2 linked regions of the Homo sapiens genome follow. The protein of the gene in region 1 purifies or fractionates together with the protein of each later gene. This does not show direct contact. Each region holds a gene or a part of one and is shown in the gene's direction. Other genes may lie near its edges.

Region 1 (2,977 bases):
CCAGGGCAGAGAGTTTCTGTGAGTCCCACTGAGAAAATCCCATGGGGTGGGGGTATCCTGGTCGGTCGGCAATGGAGGGTGGCTGGCTTGGTGGTTATTGTCTTCAAGGAGCTCTTCGCTGCTGCATCTGCGGTGTCCCTTTGTTCTTGTCCCATTTCACCCCCTCTGCAGACACCAATGTCCGAGGGCCACCCAGGACAGGACGGGGGTCAGCCCCAAGCTGAGAGTCTGGTCATAGGAGTCATGTCCAGAGGCCTAGGGAGGTTTTAGGGCCCTCCCCACCCACACCCACAGGTCGATTTGGTCTCTTTTTAGCTCAAGGAAAGACAGTAGCCAAGCAACAGAGCCCCTCTCCCGCCGTGGCCCGTGGGAGCAGTTACATCGGGTCTGGTGCTCCAGACCTAGGGCCCAGCACTTTCATCAGATCCTGCCTCCTGGAGTGGGGGAAACGCAGCACCCCACTGGTTCTGAGGCCCCTACCCTCCCAGGCTGTCCCACGTGATGCTGACATGAGCCTCAGAGACCCCAATCCCATGCCTGGGGGAGAGACAGCGGCTCAGGAGTGGGGGAGCACGGGCCTTCTACACCACATGGGAAGGCTCTGGCATGAGGTTTTCCTTTGGGAAGGTTGTTTGGGCCCCTGAAGTTCCATCTCCGAGAGTGGTGTGCAGGGCAGGCCAGGGCCCATGCTGGCTGCAGTCTCTGTGGCTGCCTGCCTGGGCCAGCCTGTTTGGGAGCTGGGACTGTGGGCTCGCCTTTTCGTACCTGGGCTCAGGTGCGGTGTGGCCACCGCCACCCTCATCCCCTGCCTGGGAGGCTCTCCCAGGGGCTGATGGGGGGGTTCTGTGAGGGAGAATCAGGGCTCGGGAAGCCACGCCTGGGAAGGCAGGACACAGGACACAGCAGCTTTCTTTGGAAATCTCCCAGGTGAGGATTCACATCCCAAAATAAAATTCAGAAGCCAGGTGGCCTGTGCTCCCCATGGGTGACCTCTGGAGGCAGTGGACCAAGATGCAGCAAGGAGAGGATGCAGAACAGCTTCTTGCAGAAGCACCTGCTCCGGCATCCAGCGCTGCCTGGAGGCAGGAAGGAGAGGCAGGGCAGGACACGCTGGTCTGAGATGAGGGGGAGCCCCACGGGCCCCAGGCAGGCTAGAGGAGGCACAGGCCCTGCCACGGCCAACTCAGGTCAGCCAGCCTGAGGCTGTGGCCTCCAAAGGGTCTGGGCGCACCCCCCAGGTCGCAGGTGTCTGAGGCCAGCCAACCTGCAGAGCACTCGCGGCGTGGGTGGGCTGAGTGGAGGTGCCTGGGAGCTGCCTAAATTCAGAAGCCTCCACTGCCATGGAGACTGCCTGGCTGTGTCCTCTCAGCCAGGTGCCGTGTTGGCCTTGGCTAGGACCCAGAGCCACACTGCAGCCTCCGCCGACTCCCTCCTTCCGGGCCTGCTCTAGTGAGGAGTGCCTAAGCCAGGACCCAGAAACTCAGAGTTGATGGTGAGAGGAGGCCGCCTGAGTCAGGACACCTGGCTTCTTGAAAAGTTCGCTCTGCCAGAAACCACCTAGGGACCACGTTAGCTGCCTTCCTTGAGCTCCCCAGGAGTCGGTTTCCACATCTGTGAGGTGGAGGGCTGGTGTGGAGGTGCTCATGGGGTGCGGTGCTTGGGAGACAGCCAGGCCCAGGGTGGCTGCTGCTTCCTGCTAAGTGGGGGAGGTGAGACAGATCTGGAAAGCCGTCTCCCTCAGATGGTTTCATTTAATGCTTTATACTGCCGAGTCTGGGGGCTTGTTTTGGTTTGGGGGCAGCCATCCTCCACCAGAAAGGGGGAGCTCCTTCCGCTGCGGCTCCAGATAGATGGGGATGCCGGGCTCCAGGCCGACCAGCACTTGGGATCTGATGGGACACGGCCAGTGCCTAGGGGTGCCAAGTCCAAGGCCTCCCACTGGGAGTCATCGCTGAGAAGATGCCAATGTTTCATCCACCGGCTGCACAGGCACAAACTCCCCCACCCAGGACGGCTGTGATGAGGTGGCCCTCCCTGTCAACCCTGGTCCCTGGAGTCCCCAGCACCTGGGGCCCTGGTGGGGCTGATGTCACAGGTGTTTACTGTGCTGCTGCACTGGTCCTATGCCAGCCTCACCCATGTGGGGACCACGGAAGGCACACTCCCTTACCCCCGGTGCCGGGCCGTGCGGTCCCCCAGACGGACAGCAGCTGTGGCGACCTGCGTTTCTCCCTGGGCCTGTGCTTCCTGTAGTTAGTCCGTCCCCTGGTTCCCCTGTGGCTCAGAGGCCGCGTCCCTGGCTTGTACATATGTGATTGCTGTGGGCACACCCCAGACCCCATGTCATAGCTGCCGTCCCGACGTCACGACGCCTGTCCCGATGTCTTACACCCGAGTGTTAGCCCTAGGCTCCTGTACTGTGCGTGCACTTGAGGCTCTGTCCAATTAAGAAATAAATGTGGCTCTTACTCAACACAGTCCCATGGGCTCTGCTGTGGCTTTATTTGCGTGTTACGTGTGTTGCAGGGCCCCGGAAAATGGCTGTAGGTGCATGCATCCAGCGTGGTCCAGAGACAGTACCCCTCTCCCAGTGATGAGGCAGGGAGGGGCTGGCTCTCGAGGTGGGCATGGGGAGGTGGTGGGGAAGGTGTCGAAGACTGAGTGTACACAGGGTGCTGGTCTTGGAGGATCAACCTCCACCTGCCTCCCGTGACCGGTTGCACCCCTGTGAACCAGCCCCAGGCACCTCCCCAGGGACACAGCACCTACCACCCTCATACCAGGCCACTGCACCCATCCCAGGCAGCCTCAGGCCTGGACCCTTCAGAGTCTCTAGTCCATGGGGTCTGCGCCTGGGCCCAGATCCTCAGAGCCTCCTGGAGTTCCAGAGGCCGCACCATTGCACACGAGGGCCTTAGTCTTGTCCAAGGTATGGCAGGAGTTTGTGGACCAGCGTCACACTGATGGCCGATGGGAG
Region 2 (3,500 bases), on another chromosome or scaffold:
TTCACCATTCCCAGGCGGGGCGGCCACTGTTCCCACACATTCACACGCCGGGTGACCACTGTTCATACGCATTCACACGTGGGGCAGCCATCATTCCCACACATTCACACGCTGGGCGGCCACCATTCACCATTCACCATTCACACACAGTATATCCTACTATTCACACTCGGGGCATGGGGATGCGGGGTGCCTCCCGGGGACTCACCGGCGCTTCTGTCTCTGTACAGAATCAGTATATCCCACAATTCACATGCAGGGCTGGGGTGGGCACGGGCAGGGGGCCCAGGCGGGCTCCTGGGGACTCGCCGGCTGTTCTGGGCTGACAGCTCTCCCACCCCTCCTGGGTGACACCTGACCCCAGCGGCATCATCTGCCACCCCACTCCTGAGACCACATGGAGTCAGAATCAGGCCCTTGGGCAGGACCACAGCCCTGGCAGGATGCCGGGTCCCCTGTCAGCACCCAAGTCCTGGTGCATGCCTTTTGTATGGTTCCCCTCCCCGCTTGCCGACACCCCTCCACACCGCTTCTTGCCTGAGGATCTGAAGGAAATTGGCACTGAGATCCACCTATACGTGTAGGCACCCCAGGAGGAAGCAGGTGTCACCCGGCCTCCGAGGGCTGGCTGAGCCTCTGTGCCCCTCCCTCCGCAGGACAAAATCCCCATGGCCCAGCGCCGCCGCTTCACGCGGGTGGAGATGGCCCGTGTGCTCATGGAGCGGAACCAGTACAAGGAGCGGCTGATGGAGCTGCAGGAGGCTGTGCGGTGGACTGAGATGATCAGGTGGGAGTTGCGGCCACCCCAGGAGGGGCTGCGGGATCATCCCTGACGGCAGGACTGCGGCTCCCTCCTCTGCACCTCCCTGTCTTCTGGGGGGACTGAAGTGCGCTGGGTGCTTCCTGGCGGGAGCCAGAGAGTCGCAGGTAAGGGAGGCGTGAGGGCACTAGCAGGTTGCTCCCTGTGCCCTCCCCTGCAGAGCGTCCCGAGAGCACCCATCCGTCCAGGAGAAGAAGAAGTCGACCATCTGGCAGTTGTAAGCTGGGGGCCCCTGGGGGATGTGGGCAGCAGCTGCAGGGGAAGGGGCAGGGAGGTTCCCTGGTCCTCTGCCCACCCCTCACCTCCCTGTGCCTCTGGCAGCTTCAGCCGCCTCTTCAGCTCTTCCTCCAGCCCCCCTCCGGCCAAGCGCCCCTATCCCTCGGTGAACATCCACTACAAGTCACCCACCACTGCCGGCTTCAGCCAGCGCCGCAACCATGCCATGTGCCCGATCTCGGCAGGCAGCCGGCCCCTGGAATTCTTCCCTGACGAGTGAGTGTCCCGCAGCCCCCACTTGTGGCCTGCAATGGGGTTGGGGAGGCCCTGTCCTGAGGCTCCTCCCCTCCAGGCCCTGAAGCGGGACTTTGAGGGCAGCCTCCACCTTGCTGGCCACATGCCAGGGGCCGTGACCTCTCCCTGCACACTGCCTGCCCCTCCCTGCAGCGGGGAGCTGGGCTGCTTTGGCTCCACGGTATTTGGTTCAGGATGTCCCTTGGCAGAGGCTGTGCCCACCAACAGTCAGGGGGCTGTGCTGGGCTCCACGGTGGCCTCTGCAGCAAGGAGCCGTTTCAGGCGTCTGTCCAGCAGGGAGTCGCTGGTCATGCCTGTGCCCCGGCGGCACTCCAGGTCCCGGTCTGTGGAACCCTCAGTGACTGTGGCAGCAGAGCAGCCTCTGGGTCGAGCAGGGGCCAGCTGTGGCCTCCAAGCCCAGGGGCATAGCCGGTGCCAGGAAAGCCACCCTTCCCAGCTGGGCACCCAGTGCCGGGAAAGCCACCCTTCCCAGCTGGGCACCCGGTGGCCGGGAAAAGGCGAGGATGGGCCCAGGCGGGCCTCCCTGCCGTGACCTCCCCCAGGACAAGCCTGGGGCACTGTGGGGGCCGCTCACCCTGGACAGAGACATCACCCATCATTCTTCCACTCAGCGACTGCACGTCCTCCGCCCGTCGAGAGCAGAAGCGCGAGCAGTACCGCCAGGTGCGTGAGCACGTGCGTAACGACGACGGCCGTCTGCAGGCCTGCGGCTGGAGCCTGCCCGCCAAGTACAAGCAGGTGCGGGCGGGCGCTGCGGGGACCGGGCGGGGCCCCGCAGAGGCGGGGCGGGGGTAAGGGGCGGGGCGCTGTGGGGCGGGGAGAGGGCGGGGCAGTGCTAGGGGGTGGGAGAGGACGGCGGGTGGGGCGGGGCCTGGCAGGTTCCTAGTGAGCCTCCTGGGCAGGGGTCTGGAGGGTCGGAGAAGGAGCCCCGCGGCTCCCACGCCCCCACCTGCCTCCAGTCTTGAAGTGGCTGTGCCGCCAGAAGCTGGCAGCCCTACCTGTCTCAGATTTCTGGAGGGATGGGTAGGAGCCAGGGTTCGTGCCCACGGCGCCTCCCTGCTCCCTGCAGCTGAGTCCCAACGGGGGCCAGGAGGACACGCGGATGAAGAACGTGCCGGTGCCGGTGTACTGCCGCCCTCTGGTGGAGAAGGACCCCACCATGAAGGTGAGCCCGCGAGGACCCCGCTCAGGCTGGCTGGGCGAGCGGGAGGCTGGGGAGTGCCGGTGACACCCGACCTCGGCCCTGCCCTTGCAGCTGTGGTGTGCCGCGGGCGTCAACCTGAGCGGGTGGAGGCCCAATGAGGACGACGCTGGGAATGGAGTCAAGCCAGCGCCAGGCCGCGATCCCCTGACCTGCGACCGCGAAGGAGACGGCGAGCCCAAGAGCGCCCACACGTCTCCCGAGAAGAAGAAGGTGAGCATGGCCGAGGCCACCGGGCACCCTCCCTGGCTTAGTCTCAGGACAGCTCAGCTGCAGAGCATGCTGGGAGTGAGACACAGGACAGCTGGGGACAGCACCCGGAAGCAGGGCAGCGCAGGGGCTCCTAGACTGCGGGAAGCAGTGTCTTCCCTCACCAGGACTGAGCCGCCTTCTGGGTTTTCAGTTTTCACCCCCCAGGTGGCCTGGAGTGGGCCTGCACTGGGCTGCAGGGGTCAGGCAGGCAGCAGGCACAGAGGAGCCCAGGAGCGGCAGAGCTTGCCTCCCAGTGGTGGGAGGCTTAGTTTTATGCCCAGCTTGGGCCTCTTGGAGCTCAGGGGCCTCTTCTGTGGAGGCGAAACCGTGTCTGTGAGTGCTTTAGAGTGCAGTCCTGAGTCCGCATTGTTCTGGTCCTGGGGGAGGACAGCCATGTCCCCTCAAGCTGTAGTCAAGGCTGGATCCTGACAGATTCTGGGAGCCCCATGGCCCTGTGCTGCCACCGGGTAGCCTCAAGCTCGGGCTCTGACCTTGATCCCGTGCCCTGAAACAGGCCAAGGAGCTCCCTGAAATGGACGCCACCTCCAGCCGGGTGTGGATCCTGACCAGCACCCTGACCACCAGCAAGGTGGTGATCATCGACGCCAACCAGCCGGGCACGGTGGTGGACCAGTTCACCGTCTGCAACGCGCACGTGCTGTGCATCTCCAGCATCCCCGGTGAGCAGCTGGAGTG

The links. Proteins that work in one complex are often made in the same cells at the same time.
Region 2: the proteins of KIF1A (region 1) and MAPK8IP3 fractionate together in Homo sapiens (co-fractionation; one large-scale study listed by BioGRID). This does not show direct contact.

Annotation. Positions count from the first base shown.
Region 1 is NC_000002.12:240,713,267-240,716,243, reverse strand, and holds the end of KIF1A (kinesin-like protein KIF1A), read left to right. Parts: 3' UTR 1-2,477; downstream 2,478-2,977.
Region 2 is NC_000016.10:1,761,695-1,765,194, forward strand, and holds part of MAPK8IP3 (C-Jun-amino-terminal kinase-interacting protein 3), read left to right. Parts: intron 1-656; coding exon 657-787; intron 788-980; coding exon 981-1,037; intron 1,038-1,141; coding exon 1,142-1,312; intron 1,313-1,962; coding exon 1,963-2,089; intron 2,090-2,420; coding exon 2,421-2,516; intron 2,517-2,606; coding exon 2,607-2,765; intron 2,766-3,318; coding exon 3,319-3,484; intron 3,485-3,500.